2 separate regions of the Homo sapiens genome follow, and region 2 is linked to region 1. A link means that fine-mapping ties the variant in region 1 to the expression of a gene that starts in the linked region. Tissue or cell type: whole blood. Region 1 holds a variant in brackets; the other region holds the start of a gene. All regions are shown on one strand. Distances are from middle to middle.

Region 1 (8,172 bases):
CTGCCTCTGGGCTTTCTGCTTCTGAGTGCTCCTAGCTGCAGGGAGGTTGCCAGTGATGGGAAGTAGCAGGGAGCCTGCATCTGCTGCCCCTAGAAGGAAGCCCAGGCAGGGTTGTTCAGTGGGAGGTACTGGCTTTGGAAGTAGATAAACGTCGGTTCACACAAACCTGATCTTTAGCAAGACACATCTGTGAAATAGGAATAATATTACATACCTTGAGCGGGTTGTGCATATTGAACCAGATGGGAGGCTATTACTGCCATTTCAGTGATAACAGAGACAGTCAGGAACAGGAAGACCCATGAGGAGGGAGCCCACAGGCCAAGTCAGCACCCGCCCGCCCCTAGTCCCCAGCACAATGCTAAGTTGCAGTGCCCGACTGTTCTGCTCAGAACTGGAACAGATGGGTCCTTGTACCAAGCAGGTCCATTCCCCAAATTGAAGTCCTGTGACTCCAGCCGCCAAGGCTGCAGGCTTCCGTACATGAGGACCCAAAAACACAAGCTGACTTATGGGGTCCAGCCCTCCAGCACTTACAAAGCTCAGCCACCCGCACGCCTCCCTTCATCAGCACCACCACTCTAAGGAATGCGGTCCCTTTGACAGGCGAAAAACTGAAGTTGGAAAAGACAAAGTGATTTGTTCAAAATTGAAATTTGAAACTTGACATTTGGTCAGTGGGCCCTATGTAGGAAAAAACCTCCAAGAGAGCTAGGGTTCCTCTCAGAGAGGAAAGACAGGTCCTTAGGTCCTCACCCTCCCGTCTCCTTGCCCTTGCAGTTCTGGGAACTGGACAGATTGGACAACTATAACGACACCTCCCTGGTGGAAAATCATCTCTGCCCTGCCACAGAGGGGCCCCTCATGGCCTCCTTCAAGGCCGTGTTCGTGCCCGTGGCCTACAGCCTCATCTTCCTCCTGGGCGTGATCGGCAACGTCCTGGTGCTGGTGATCCTGGAGCGGCACCGGCAGACACGCAGTTCCACGGAGACCTTCCTGTTCCACCTGGCCGTGGCCGACCTCCTGCTGGTCTTCATCTTGCCCTTTGCCGTGGCCGAGGGCTCTGTGGGCTGGGTCCTGGGGACCTTCCTCTGCAAAACTGTGATTGCCCTGCACAAAGTCAACTTCTACTGCAGCAGCCTGCTCCTGGCCTGCATCGCCGTGGACCGCTACCTGGCCATTGTCCACGCCGTCCATGCCTACCGCCACCGCCGCCTCCTCTCCATCCACATCACCTGTGGGACCATCTGGCTGGTGGGCTTCCTCCTTGCCTTGCCAGAGATTCTCTTCGCCAAAGTCAGCCAAGGCCATCACAACAACTCCCTGCCACGTTGCACCTTCTCCCAAGAGAACCAAGCAGAAACGCATGCCTGGTTCACCTCCCGATTCCTCTACCATGTGGCGGGATTCCTGCTGCCCATGCTGGTGATGGGCTGGTGCTACGTGGGGGTAGTGCACAGGTTGCGCCAGGCCCAGCGGCGCCCTCAGCGGCAGAAGGCAGTCAGGGTGGCCATCCTGGTGACAAGCATCTTCTTCCTCTGCTGGTCACCCTACCACATCGTCATCTTCCTGGACACCCTGGCGAGGCTGAAGGCCGTGGACAATACCTGCAAGCTGAATGGCTCTCTCCCCGTGGCCATCACCATGTGTGAGTTCCTGGGCCTGGCCCACTGCTGCCTCAACCCCATGCTCTACACTTTCGCCGGCGTGAAGTTCCGCAGTGACCTGTCGCGGCTCCTGACGAAGCTGGGCTGTACCGGCCCTGCCTCCCTGTGCCAGCTCTTCCCTAGCTGGCGCAGGAGCAGTCTCTCTGAGTCAGAGAATGCCACCTCTCTCACCACGTTCTAGGTCCCAGTGTCCCCTTTTATTGCTGCTTTTCCTTGGGGCAGGCAGTGATGCTGGATGCTCCTTCCAACAGGAGCTGGGATCCTAAGGGCTCACCGTGGCTAAGAGTGTCCTAGGAGTATCCTCATTTGGGGTAGCTAGAGGAACCAACCCCCATTTCTAGAACATCCCTGCCAGCTCTTCTGCCGGCCCTGGGGCTAGGCTGGAGCCCAGGGAGCGGAAAGCAGCTCAAAGGCACAGTGAAGGCTGTCCTTACCCATCTGCACCCCCCTGGGCTGAGAGAACCTCACGCACCTCCCATCCTAATCATCCAATGCTCAAGAAACAACTTCTACTTCTGCCCTTGCCAACGGAGAGCGCCTGCCCCTCCCAGAACACACTCCATCAGCTTAGGGGCTGCTGACCTCCACAGCTTCCCCTCTCTCCTCCTGCCCACCTGTCAAACAAAGCCAGAAGCTGAGCACCAGGGGATGAGTGGAGGTTAAGGCTGAGGAAAGGCCAGCTGGCAGCAGAGTGTGGCCTTCGGACAACTCAGTCCCTAAAAACACAGACATTCTGCCAGGCCCCCAAGCCTGCAGTCATCTTGACCAAGCAGGAAGCTCAGACTGGTTGAGTTCAGGTAGCTGCCCCTGGCTCTGACCGAAACAGCGCTGGGTCCACCCCATGTCACCGGATCCTGGGTGGTCTGCAGGCAGGGCTGACTCTAGGTGCCCTTGGAGGCCAGCCAGTGACCTGAGGAAGCGTGAAGGCCGAGAAGCAAGAAAGAAACCCGACAGAGGGAAGAAAAGAGCTTTCTTCCCGAACCCCAAGGAGGGAGATGGATCAATCAAACCCGGCGGTCCCCTCCGCCAGGCGAGATGGGGTGGGGTGGAGAACTCCTAGGGTGGCTGGGTCCAGGGGATGGGAGGTTGTGGGCATTGATGGGGAAGGAGGCTGGCTTGTCCCCTCCTCACTCCCTTCCCATAAGCTATAGACCCGAGGAAACTCAGAGTCGGAACGGAGAAAGGTGGACTGGAAGGGGCCCGTGGGAGTCATCTCAACCATCCCCTCCGTGGCATCACCTTAGGCAGGGAAGTGTAAGAAACACACTGAGGCAGGGAAGTCCCCAGGCCCCAGGAAGCCGTGCCCTGCCCCCGTGAGGATGTCACTCAGATGGAACCGCAGGAAGCTGCTCCGTGCTTGTTTGCTCACCTGGGGTGTGGGAGGCCCGTCCGGCAGTTCTGGGTGCTCCCTACCACCTCCCCAGCCTTTGATCAGGTGGGGAGTCAGGGACCCCTGCCCTTGTCCCACTCAAGCCAAGCAGCCAAGCTCCTTGGGAGGCCCCACTGGGGAAATAACAGCTGTGGCTCACGTGAGAGTGTCTTCACGGCAGGACAACGAGGAAGCCCTAAGACGTCCCTTTTTTCTCTGAGTATCTCCTCGCAAGCTGGGTAATCGATGGGGGAGTCTGAAGCAGATGCAAAGAGGCAAGAGGCTGGATTTTGAATTTTCTTTTTAATAAAAAGGCACCTATAAAACAGGTCAATACAGTACAGGCAGCACAGAGACCCCCGGAACAAGCCTAAAAATTGTTTCAAAATAAAAACCAAGAAGATGTCTTCACATATTGTATTTATATATTTATATTTATATATATATTTATATAATGGTACAAAATGGCTGGGGGTGTGGCCATGGATGGAGGGAAGAGTAGGCTGGCCTGTGGCG[T/C]GGGTGGGAGGAGAGGGGACGGAGAGGGCACTCGGCCCGCTGCAATCTGACCCCTCTCTCCTCAGGGCAGGAAACACAGAGTCAGACAGTTTGGGGGGGTCTTGGGCCAGGGGTGGAGGGCTCAAGGGCACAGGGCCCAGGCTGAGGCAGGGCGGGCAAAGCGCCTGGCAGGATGAAGGGCAAGTGGCCCCCCAAACACAGAGGCCCTGGCCATGGACCCTGGGAGGTGACCGGGGTGAGTCAGGGGCCTGTTGTCAGCCCCAGAGGAAGCGCTGGACCTGGCCGATGGTGGGCCGAGAGGACAGCACCAGGCTGGGAGAAGTGGGGCGAGTTCCCTTTGTATTACAGCTGCCAGTGCAAGACCAGGCCCTCCAGGCCAGGAAGGCTAGGGACGGGTCCTGGTAGAAGACACCCTGTCTAGAATGGCCCTTGGTCCTGGAGGTGGGGCGCAAAAGGCCTCAGCCAGGGAACTGCCCTGCCACCTCCCGAGGCAGGAAAGGAAGTGAGAAAAGGAGAAGTTTTTTTACTCCTGGGGCCAAAGTAGGGGGACAAACACCCAGTCGTATATGGCTTCAGCTCTGACCAAAGGCGGATAGGGAGCTCTCCTGGGTAGGAGCAGGGAGCCAAGGGGGAGGCAGTGGCTGTGCCTGGGTGGGCACAGACAGATCTGGTACATGGCCCTGAGCCCTGGGCAGAGGGACAACCTTGCCGGTGAGTGGGCAGGCAGAGAGGAGGCGGCAGGATGCTGTTTCCCCGATTCCATCCTCAGGGAGTGGAGACTGGAGGGGAGGTGCACTGACTCAGATGAACTGTTCTCCCCCTTCTTTGATAAGAAGTAGGTGGCAGCAGCCTCTGGAAAAGTCAGGGCCCTGGAGGTTACCTGGCCCAGGGCTACTACAGCCACAGGCCCCAGTGGCACCATGCCACCCCTTCCATGGCTCCACTCAAGGGGGCCACACAGCCACCGCCTCTTCCTCCTTTCCTTCATCCCAAACTGGGACAAAAGACTTCAAGTTCTGGCTAAGATGTAGCAGCAGCGGATGCCCGGGCATCCAAAGTGGAAAGCCAGGGCCCCGTGTCACCGGTGTGGGCAAACACACATGCACGTGCACACATGTTCTCCCTGAATCACTCAGCAGCAGACAGGCTGCCGCCCTGGGGGTCTCAGCCCTGCTAGGGCTCACCAGGTGGAAGCCTAGGTGGTCTGACCTCAGTTTAGGAGTGGGTCATTTACGTCATCTTACCATTTGGGGACGAGACAGGAATGGTATCCCTTAGGGACCCAGAGACACTGCAAACAGTGGGTGGCCATGTAGGGCTGCATGTCCCTGGGTCCAGGGGAATGGAGGGAGCAATAACTTGAAGAAGGGGGGAAGGGTTTCTTTTATCCTTTTTTTTTTGTGTGACTTCTATCAAAACACAGAAATACAGCACACGCACAAACCAGCACAAAAGCGCAGCGCTCTATTTACAGCTCCGGCTGGCACCTGCCCACCTGGCCAGCCGCCTGCAGGGAGGGGTGGGAGAGGGGTCAGCCACATCAGCAGGGAAAGGATACGAAGCAGGTAAAGACAGAAGGAAAATGGGCGGGTGCGGAGAAACCAAGAGGGAGGTGGAGCTCCAGCAATGCGGACACGAGGAGACAGGAGCAGAAGGGGCTGGGGGAGACCTGACCTGTCCTTCCTCTCTCCCCCCAGATTCCCATCCAGGACTCCAAAAGCATAGCTGAAGGGGGTGTGGCGGGTGCAGGGATGCACGGAAAGAGGTAAAATAGAGAGGCTCCATAGGAATTGGGAGGAGTGGGGGAGGGGCAGTCCTGGTGGCCGAAATGGAACCAACCCCAATGCAAAATCCCCCACCCCACACTGCCACTTCCCCCTAAGCTGCCAGCACATCTGGTTTCCACAAATGCCACTCCCTACACAAGCCCCCTCCCACCCCCTCCACCCCACCCCGCGACCCAGGCCATCCCAACATTGAGGGGAAGAACTTTGTTAAGGTTATCGTATTTGCAACATTGCCCCGGCTCCAGCCCTGGCAGCGACTTCTAGAAGGGCAGGTTGGCCATGCCGCCTGGTGCCGGGAGGTAGCCCATCTGGCTGTCCAGGGACACACTGCGCTGCCGAAGGGGGTGGGACACCATGAGGTTCTGCTGGGGCGGGGGGCCCATGAGGGAGCCCTGCGGGGAGAGCATGTGGGGCGGCTGGCTGTAGACCTCGCCCCCCACGCCCCGCTGCTTCATCAGCATGAAATTCTGCTGGGTCATGAGGCCTTGTGGAGGGGACATGACCCCCTGGTGCAGGCCATGGGGCACCATCCCCTGCTGTGGGGGCACGCCTGTCCTGCCCAGCAAGGACATCTGTCCAGGGTGGCACATGGACATGTTGAGCCCCCGCTGGACGCCCTGCTGGCCTGGGAGGTTGGGAGGCCGAGAGGGAGTCTGCTCCGCCATCATGTTCTGCAGGTTCATGAGATGCAGATTAGGGGGCTGAGCCTTGGGGGGCTGGTTCTCGCTCTTGGGGAAGTACTGGAGGGTGCTGCTTGGCTTCTCAGAGGGGATGATCCTCGACAAGTCGAACTCGGGGATCCCCGTTGGGGTGGGCCGGATCACCTCGCTCAGCTCGGGGTCGTTCAGCACTGATGCCACCCCAGGGAGCACACCCGGTGGGTATGCGTCGCCCATGCGCCCAGCCATGGCTTTGCCCATCAGGTGCTGCTGGGGAGGCATGGGGCCTGGCGGCTGGTTGGGCAGGTCCTCGGGAGGCAGGGCCATGCCTGACGGGTAGTGCTGCTGCAGGCCAGGCCCCCCGCCCCCACCCCCAGTGGGGGCCATGGCACCATGGGGCTGCTGCAGCCGAGGGGGGAAGGGCATCATCTGGGAGGAGCTGGGCACTGGGCCACAGGGGGCATTCAGGGAGTCGGGGCCCCCTGGGGCCATCATCATGGAGTTTTGAGGGGGCCCCCCTGTCCCCTGTGCGTTGGGATGCAGTGGAATGTTGGAGCCCAGAGGGGTGGGGGAGGGCAGCATGGCGGGCGGGGGCTCATGGGACAGGGGCTGCTGGCCTGGCAGGTTCATGCCCATAGGGCTCTGGGCAGCGGCTGAGTTCAGGTGCATCTGGCTGGGCTGGCTGTTGCTGATCCCTGTAGGGAATAGAAGACAGGGGGTCAGGCACGGTGTGCCCAGCTCGGGGAGGGTGCAGGGCTCAGGCCTTCCCCACTCCCAAGCCAGGGGGTGCCAGAGGTCAAAGTCTTCACCACTGGCTTCCCCTGGCTGGGAGGGAAGGGACTGGAGGCATTGATGCTAGAAGCCAAGAGACCAAGTTCTGGCCCAGTTCGCCAGACACACCACCAGGTGTTGGAAAGACCACTCGAGTGCTCTGGGCTGGGTTTCCCTAATGACTCCAGCGAGTGGGAACAGCATCCCGGAGCCTCCACCCCCACACCCAGGGCCTTCAGAGGCACAAAAAAGCCAGCACAACCACAGCTGTGCTCCCCGCTCCCAGTGCCCACACCAGCTGGCCTCCCTGGGGCCCTGGCCTGTCCTCGCACCTGGCCCGGAGCCCTGCGGTGGTGGTGGGGGGGGCAGCAGGGGCCGGTCGGGCAGCAGCTCGTCGTCTGAGGTGGCGATGGTCTTGATGGCATTGTGGTAGAGCGGGGTGGAGCTGGGCATGGCGTACTTGGACATCTGGGTCATCATCAGTGACAGGGGGTTCTGGGAAGGTGTGGGGTCTGGGGAGGAAGTGAATGGTAGGCTGGGGTTCATGAGGCCGCTGGGAGGGTTGGCGGGAGGTGCTGAGGAGCTGCTCCGGGGGCCGCTAGGCGGGAGGGTACCTACAGAAACGGGGAGACAAAGAGAGCAGGGGTGACTGGGGAGGGGCAGATGAGTTTGGCTGTGGATATGGGGAGGTTTAGGAAGCGGTCAGTTCCCCAAATCACCTGGTCCTTCAGACACACCCACAGGCCCCCACTATCTCCAGAGCCCACCAGTCTTCAAGCAATTCCTGCAGCCTCAGGGCCCCAGGCAAGGGGAAGATCCCAGGCCCCAAGTACGATCACTCAAAATGCCTGGGAGACTCACGTGGTACCCCCTGAGAAAGCCCACAAATGTCATCATCTGCCCCATAAGCAGAGCCATCCACCTCTGGGCCCGTGGTACACAGGCCCTTACTCACTCACTGCCCAGCCCCAGCATGGACACACTGCTCAGCGCCTGCCTGCCTGCCTGCCTGCCTGCCTGCGCAATTGACTCACCCTGTTCCATGTTGCTCAGGGTGGTGGAAGAGTTCATGTTGAGAGGCGGCTGCTTGTTCTGGGAGACCCCCGGGCTGGGCATGGCCGTCTTAGGTGAGGCAACCCAGCCTGGAGAAGGCACCGCCATGGAAGGAGACTTGAGCCTGCTGGGCGAGCCAGTGGGTGAACGGACACTGAGGGAGGAGCCGAGGACCTGGGGCGACTTGAGAGGTCCTGGCGGGTTGGCAGAAGGCAAGGGCACCATCTGTGAGGGAGTCTGGGGTGACTTGAGGTTGGCAGAGGGCGAGGTGACCAGGGGTGAGTGCACCTGGCTAAGGGTGGGCGACTTCAAGTGCCCCATGCCCGGTGAGCCCATCTGATTAATACTGA
Region 2 (8,172 bases), 28 kb after region 1:
TGCCAAACAGAACCGCCGACAGAAGATACACCCACACTGAGACACACACACACACAAACTTATACACACACACAAAGTAGTACGCAGCCATGTGCTAGCACACAAACTCAGACACACAAACTTGCAGCGCAGAGTGTGTGAAGTCGGATTAGAAGGCAATGCTCTGGGGAGGAGGGGAGCCTGCAGGGGGTGGAGAACCACTCAGGGATTTCAAAACAATCCTGGTTTCGAAATGCTGGAAATGCTGGATTCAGGGCCATTCCGAGTTGAGGCTGGGGGTGGGGAAGTGGAGAGTGAGGAGGAGGGGAAGACGGGCCAGCCCAGGGCTACCAGTCCATTGGAGGAGGAACGGGAACGGACAGAGGGAGTCCCAGCTCTGGTGGAAGGGGGCCTAGAATAAAACACCAGGGTTAGGAGGGGGACCAGTCCAGGGCCAAGCAGGGAGGGCCTGGGCTGCAAAGGAGAGGCCTCTGCTTTTGCCACTGACAGGAAAAGTGAGAAGGCAGGGGAAGCCGCCCCTCCCCCTTGGCATGGAGAATCAGAGGGAACCTGTCTGTGTCCTTTCCCCTACTCCTGGGCAGTGGTGACCACCTTCTCCCCTCCAGAGTGGCACCCTGGCTCCCCTTCCCCACCAGCTAGCACAGCCCCAAGGTGGGTGGAAAGCTAAGGGGTCACAGGGGATGGGGAGATGGCAAGGGCCTGCAGGAGTCAGGGGTCTTCCACAGGTTCCAGGACCCCCCACACTCAGAGCAGGCTGTGGGCATCCCCCTGGGAACCCAAGGCTTTCTTCCTCTCCACAAGGATGCGGGACCCTCGGGGAGACTGAGGCAGTGTAACACATGCCCACACCCAGGAAGTCGCCCCTCCCACGGCAGCCAGAATGCCCTTACTGCCCCTCCCCCAGCCTCCAGGGAAAGTCAGGCTGAGTTCTCCCAGGAGGGGAGGGAGGGGAGGTCAGGCCAGGCTGGGGGTGGGGCTCAGAGGCCTGGCCCTGGCACCAGGCAGAGGAAATTCCAGGCTGTAAGTCCAGGCAGCCTTCAGGGCCGCCGAGCCAAGTGACATGCACCAGCTCAGGAGCTGCAGTGCTCTGGCCTTCCCCTCCTAGCCCTGGCCTTCCAGCCCTCCAACTGGCTCCAGCCCCAGCTCTGGGACTCAGATAGGCTCCTCAGCCCTGGCAGGAGCTCCCACCAGCCCCATCCCGGCTCCTCTGGCCAGTTAGAGCTTCCCTTCCTCAGTTCCCTGAGGGCAGCCCCCACGGTGTGTTTGTGGGTGGGCAGCTGTCGGGGCTGGCAGGCAGGGGCACACATGCGGAGCTAGAGCAGCCAGGCGCTCAACAGGTTGAGCCAGTCCATGGAACAGCCGGCCCCACCCCAGGGAGAGCGGGCCTGGCAGAGGCTCCCTGCCCGCGGCACCCAGCCTGTACCCGCTTGGCTCCCACGGCTGCCCACTTTCCCACGGTGCCATCCCCCTTCTGCCCCCTCCCCCCATCGGAGGTCAGCACCCGGGCAGTGCCCAGGGCTCTGGCACAAGGAAGGAAGGGATGCCATTCCCCTGTCACCCCTGGGTGCCCAGGCTCTTGAGCTACCTCACTCTCAGCACCCAAGGAGCCCCAGAAACAGCCAGCATGGCAGCAGGACCACAAGAACCCCAAAGGACTTCCCAGGCACCTCCTTGTGGGCCTCTTCTGATTCTGGGAAGACTGGAAACTTGAACACCCCAGCTCTCCAGAGCTGTCCCAGGGTCCTGGGACAGAACTTCAGCGTGTGGTACCAGAGGCAGTGTGGGGGTGCCCCCAGCTCCTCCTATTGGACTCCCTGGAGGAGGGGCTGCAGAGCTGGGTGACAGTGGCTCTCGGACTCCCTGGAGGAGGGCTGCAGAGCTGGGTGACAGTGGCTCCCTCCACTCCTGCCCCGGCAGCTGCTGCTGCAACCCTGGTCCTTTCCTCCCACTCCACTCCTGGGCTCCATGGAGCTCCATCGCAGTCACTCCCCTGATAGGCAGGCAGCTCCCCTTTGCTCGGCATCTCCTTTAATCTAAAGCAGGTGCCAGGCATTCCAGCCCTTGCTGAGCCGACACTGCCACCCCCTAGGCCCCTGCCCAGAGGCTACTGTCCTGCCTGGTCTGGAAGTTGAGACCCCAGCCTAGGGCTCCCGCTTAACCCAGGTACCAGGACTCCAAAGGCAGGAACTAGCTAAGCAGGGTCATGGGTACCCAACACAGATTCAACAGGCAAGATCAATAGGTCCCAAATTGCCACTGAGGCGCTAGATTTCTGTGGACTGCCAATCCCTCTCTAGGACCCTGTAGTATCTCTCCGGTCCCATGACTCCCCATCCTAGTAGAGACTCATTCTGAACCTCCATATGGGCCTCCAGAACCCATCACCAGTCATGGGACCCCTTCTACTCCAGGCACAAGAGTCACTCTGGATCCAAGATTTTAGGTATTCTACCTGCCCCTCAGCACCCTTCCTGCTGTGAACCATCACCCCACCCCACTCAGGAGCAACATGGGTAAGCAGGGAACCCCTAGAGGGAGGTGGCCAGAAGGCTGCTTCCAGGCCTGGCTCTCCAAGGCCAAGGAGGCAAATCACCTGGGGGAGGCGGCACCTTCCTTCCTGGCACCAGCCTCCCAGTCTCTCTCCCTGCTCCTCACCTTCCTCACCCATTCTCTCCCTGTCCTGTCCTGAGGCCTCTATCAGCAGGGCCTCAGAGCTGACACCAGGAAGACAGGGCCTGAGCATGCTCCTCCTCTGGGGTCATGAAATTGTGGTCCTGACCTGGAGAAGGTAGCCCGGCCCATGCTGAGAGGCAGCAGAAGAGCAAGGCAGCCCCTGCCCGGAAGTGGCTGCTCCCTGGAGAGACCAAGAAGAGAAGGAGAAGACAGTGGAAGCCCACTCACTGTGGTGGTCTCATCCAGAGAGCTGCTCAGAGGCAGCAGCAGAGTTGGAGCAGATACAGGGCACAGTCAGCTTTCACACTAAACCAAGGCTGGGAGTGAGGGCAGAAGATCCAGGGAGGCTTGGAACCCCTTTGTGAGGGCTCAAACACACGCCCAGTTCACCTCTCTCAGAGCAACACTTTTTCTCCTCGCAGCAGAGGTTCCCCCAGACACAGACACAGACACAGACACACACCCCAAGCAGTAGACAGAAAGAGAAGGGAGAGAGGGGGTGTCAGAAAAACCCGGAAGGAAGGAAGCTGGACAGACAGACAGTAGCTGATCCTAGCTTCATTGCTCCAGAGAGACACCCTCCAGACTCCTAGACTTCAAGGGACACTATCCTTCTCAGAAGGAGAGAGCAGCCCTCTGTCTCTTCTGAAACCAAATTCCAGCAGCCCTGGAATAGGACCTACCCCAGCGCAACAAGAAGCCTAAGCTCACTTCTCTTCCTACATTCTTCCCCGAGGGTTCCTTTGGATCAAGACAGGGGCCACCTCCCCTTAGCAGCGCAGGGACACTTCCAAGGAACTGTATGACTGCCCCACCCCCCAGCCAAGCCCACATCACTCAGAAGCCTTGGAAGAAGAGACTCCTCAGTCACAGCCCCCGCTACTCACAGGCAGTGCCTGGGAGAAAAGGGTGACCCCCAGCTCTCCCCAGTCCCAACCCACCTCCTTCTGGAGGCTCCTATCAGCCAGAGGAGGAGGGCTGGGGTGCTGAGACCCACGGGGTTGGTGAGCCTGGGAGGGGGACTACATCTCCCAGAAGCCCCCAGGGCAAGGTTCGCTGCTCCAGCTGGCCCAAGGCCGGCCTTGTTCTCTGCGCTAGGGTGGCAGGGTCCCCTGGCTGTCCCTAAGCCCTCCCCACGGTGTTCTGGAGCTGCCAACCTGATTGGGGGCTTAAGAGTAGCCTCCACTGACCCTGGGGGAGTCCCCCACACCTTAAACAGCCTGGGGGTACGTGCCAGAGAGCAAGAGACAATCAGACTGTGTTTCCCCTCCCCGATTCAAACTGGATCTCCCTCCTCGCGCCTCTGCTGGCCTGGCATGACTTTCGCCTTGCCCCCAGCCCACCCCTCACCTCACGCGGATTGGGGGGTCCTCACGCCAGGCCGGAGCTGGACGCCATGACCAGGTCAGGGTCGTTGTGTGGATGGGGGTCCTCCTGCTCGCCAGTTGGAGATGCAGAGGGGGCGGGCAGGCGGTGATCTTTTGATCCTGGACGCCTTGATCTCAATACCAGCCCGGCCCGGGAGAGGCTATCCGGGGATCGCTGGGTGCCTGGGTTCCTGCCTCCCAACCGCGGAGCATGGTCGCGGGCGCCGGGCAGTGGCGGGAGAGCGCGCACACCCGCCGGGGCCGGGGCGCGGGGCCGGGGTCTCGGCCCCGAACCTCAGGGCTCCGGCTCCTGCTCCTGCTCCTCCTTCCCTTGCTTGCTTGCTTGCTTCCTTCCTTCCTTCCTCGCCTCTCCTTTCCTTTCCCCAAAGCCCGCGGGAATGCCGGGCGCTGGGTGGGGAGGGGCTGTCTGGGCGCTTATTGTTGGTCGGACTCCGAGGGTCCGGGTCACAGCCCCCGGGCGGCGCGGCGCCGGGGGACCCAGGCGTGCGGGCGTCCGGCCGGCTGGCTCCGGGCGGCGGCGGTGGTGCAGCGGCCCCGGGTCCGGGGCATGTCCAGCCACTGGCTCCGCCGCGCGCCGCCGCCTCCCCGGGCTCCCCTGCGCTGCCGGAGCCTCGCTTGCCCCTCCACTCGGCTCCACTCCCCAGCCTGAATAAGCATCGGGGCTCTCTGGCTGCCTCCTTCTGCCTTCATACCAGAGCCCGGAGAGGCCCCTGTCAAAATAAGAGCTCCCCCATCTCGCTTGCCTCCTCGCCCAACCCGGCTCCCCCAGCCTCCCAGTGGTCTGACTCGGTAAGGCGCCCGGCCGGCTAGCGGGAGGCAGGTTGGCCCGGGGGCGGGGAGGGGGGTTTCTGCTCTCCTCCTCACTCCTGAGAACTGGGGAGGAGACGCGCCAACAACATCCCAGGCTAGGGAAAGGTTTGACAAACCTACCTTCCTATCTGCACTGATTGGAAGGAGTGGAAGTTGCCTGGACACACGCGCGCGCACACACACACACACACACAGCACTGGGTCCCCTCTTCGTTGTACCCACCCACATCCATAATGCACTGAGCATCTCTTTATTCATGTCTCTCCTAGTAGACCATGAGGTCCTTGAGGACACAGACTGAGTTTTTTCATCTCAATCCTCAGCAGCACAAAGTGCATGCTAAGAAAATGTTTGTGGAAGTGAAACCTTTGTCTTCTCAAAAGAACTCTCCTAACCTAACCTCAAAGTGCTTCTCTCTCTCTCTCTCTCTCTCACACACACACACACACACACACACACTCTCACCACCCTATAGGACGATCGAGGCAATGAAAAAGAAAATGTAAAGCCCTTTTTTTTTTTTGAGATGGAGTTTCGCTCTTGTTGCCCAGGCTGGAGTGCAAAGGCGCGGTCTCAGCTCACTGTAACCTCTGCCTTCTGGGTTAAAGCGATTCTCCTGCCTGAACCTCCCAAGTAGCTGGGATTGCAGGCACCTGCCACCATGCCCGGCTAATTTTGTATTTTTAGTAGAGACAGCGTTTCACCATGTCGGCCAGGCTGGTCTCGAACTACTGACCTCAGGTGATCAACCTGCCTTGGCCTCCCAAAGTGCTGGGATTACAGGCGTGAGCCACCGCGCCCGGCCCAAAGCGCTTTTTAAAAACATTTCACATGTTTCAATGCTCACCACAAACCTGCAAGAAAGAGGTTATGGTCCCATTACAGAGGTGAGGAAATTGAGGTTTGCATTACCTAAGGACTTACCCAGAGCTACCCAGCTAGAAAGTGGTAAGCCCAGGACTAGAATTTGGGTCTCCTTATCCCAGGGCACTTTCCCTGTTTCCTACTGTCCCCACCCACCCAGAATTAATAGCAAGTGACAAGCATTGACTGTGTCTGATAGGAAGAACACTAGCCAGCCTGCTTGTTCCTGCTGTTTCCTCGGCCCTCTCCCCTGCCCCTCCTCACAGATGGTCCCCAGATAGTTCTAGCCTCACTGACCTCCCTCTCTTCTGACCACCTATCCCATCATAGCATCTGAGTACTTCCTGATGTGTTGTATCTTGTCACACACACACACACACATATATATATACACACACACACCCCTATATATGTATAGGTGTATGCACACACACACATATATATATATGTCTGATTTCCCCCAAAAGATTCCTAAGGGCCTTGAGGGGTTGATGGTGCCAACAGCTGGGCACTGGACAAGGTTTAGGGAGGCACAGGTGGAAGGGGACAAAAACCTGAAAGAAGATAACATAGTAACCCCCCCCCATGTGTCCCATCACTGCTTACAAAGCATTTTCATGCACGTTGTCTCATGATGATGCTTTGATCCAATCACCAAAACTTTTCCAAGTGCCAGCCTGCTGTGCCAAGCACTGTCCTGGGTTAGGGGGTTGAATCACCACAGTCCTGAGAAGTCGATTTTATCCCCACTTAAAAGAAAAGAAAACCAAAGCCCAGAGAGGCTTCTAATGTGAAAGATCCCAGCACCTAGGCTAGTACCTGACCCATGGAAATAAGGTTTAATTTCTTATCTCCTCTCCAGAAAGACATAATATGGGCCCCCACTTCTCCAACAGGGTGCTTCTTAGAGGGGACCACTGCATTTATGTGGATCAGTCTCCCCTTACATATATGACAAGCCAAAGGGGCTTGTTATGATCTCTTTGGCACAATTCCTGGTTCGTAGTAGGTCCAAAACAGTGTTTGCAGGGGCAAGTGAGTCTGTGTTGCCAGGGGTCTCTTAAATGGTGCACAATACATGTCCTATGGAGCAGCCACGCGGAGCGCTCCCCTGGGTGGGGCTGTGACTCATTCCCCCAGCGGAGGTTCCAGGTTGGGATTCGGAGCTGAGCTCTGGGCAGCCACAAGTTCTGGGTGGAACCCTGGAGAGAGCCAGGAGGAAAGGAGAGAGGCAGGGGGCCCTTGCTGGAATCGAGCGGCTCCCTCTACTGGCCAACTCGGGGAACCTCTGTCTTTCCGTGTATCTGTGTGTCACTGTGTCACGAGGGGTGTCACAGGTGTGTCAGCGTTGGCGTTCGTCGGTGGAAGTGCCCGCATGGGTATGGGTGCGTGAGGGTGCCCGTTCGTGACGCAGTGTGGGTGTGCCAGCGCCACGAGGGGCTGTTTCTGGAAGCACAGTGTGTACACACAACCGTATCTTGTAATACAATTTACTTTGGGGCTGCTGGGGGTCTGAGATTAGGCATCCCGTTGCCGGGGTTACTAGGACAAAAGGATTCTCCAGCTGGTACTCCTCACCGGCTGGAGCACTAGCCCGAGAAGGTGGGAGGAGTCCAGACCAAACAGTTCCTGAAAAGGACTCTATCACCTAAAGCAAATAGGGACCCAAGAAAGAGTTAACGCAGAGCCCCACAGTGACTTCAATCATTGGCTCAGGGCACTGTCAGTCAGAGGTCTGGGGGCGGGGTTTGTGGGGCCTCCATCTGACTGCCCAGCGCCCCTCACTTGCCCCTCGACCCCCACATCATCTCACTGCTGGGCTGCGCCCGCACCCCCATCTTGGTGGCGACACCGTCCTGGGCCCTGGAGGAAGAGCCGATCCGGGCATCCTGGCTTCCCCACTCACTCCAGCTGCCTGGCTTCCTGATAGATGGTGATTATATAATAGACTTGCTGGACAGAACCGTGCCAGCGCTCGGAACACTTTGCCCCCTCCTCGAAGCCTGCCCCAGGGCCTGGCACCTGCCACACAGAGCCTGCTGCCGGGTTCTGCCGGCGCCCCCCAGCAACGCCTCCATTTCGGGGTGGGAGACCCCAGGACAAGGTCCTGGGATGGGGCGGGCGCCAAGCGGAGAGAAGCAGGGCGGGTGCCCCGCGGGTCTCAGGGTCGGCCTGAGGAGTGTGGATTCACAAGCGCCTCTCAGGATAGTGGGACCCGCCTGGCCCCTTCCAACCTGAGCTTGCAACTTGGGAGCCAATAGAGGAGCAGGGGCCAGGGTGGGAACGGGAAGGAGTTTGGAAAAGGTGTGGGGGCAGGAAAGGGAGGCTGAGAGAGGGGGCCGGCTGGGGCAGGGGGGAGGGACTCTTATCCCTCACCACTGCCGCCTTCCCCGACTGGAGGGTTTGGAAAAACTGAGCAGGCAGCAAGGCTTGGCT

The links. PIP is the estimated chance that this variant, and not a neighbour inherited with it, causes the effect.
Region 2: BCL9L starts here. The variant in region 1 is fine-mapped to the expression of BCL9L in whole blood (TOPMed, PIP 0.98).

Annotation. Positions count from the first base shown.
Region 1 is chr11:118,892,816-118,900,987 of GRCh38, forward strand. CXCR5 (C-X-C motif chemokine receptor 5) reads left to right here. Exons shown (of 2, transcript NM_001716.5): 2 at 781-4,972. The coding sequence ends at 1,848. It overlaps BCL9L (BCL9 like), which reads right to left. Exons shown (of 10, transcript NM_001378213.1): 8 at 7,804-8,172; 9 at 7,102-7,383; 10 at 3,321-6,693. The coding sequence ends at 5,600. Among named protein-coding and RNA genes, the nearest start is that of CXCR5, 13 kb to the left of the region's middle. RefSeq lists enhancers at 2,949-3,707, 5,327-5,834. The variant T/C (reference allele first, on the strand shown) is at 3,553.
Region 2 is chr11:118,921,215-118,929,386 of GRCh38, forward strand. It overlaps BCL9L (BCL9 like), which reads right to left and starts at 4,712. Exons shown (of 10, transcript NM_001378213.1): 1 at 4,024-4,712. RefSeq lists enhancers at 496-1,036, 2,120-2,660, 2,661-3,200, 3,429-3,498, 3,870-4,371 and 4 more and silencers at 4,567-4,616, 4,817-4,956, 5,777-5,836.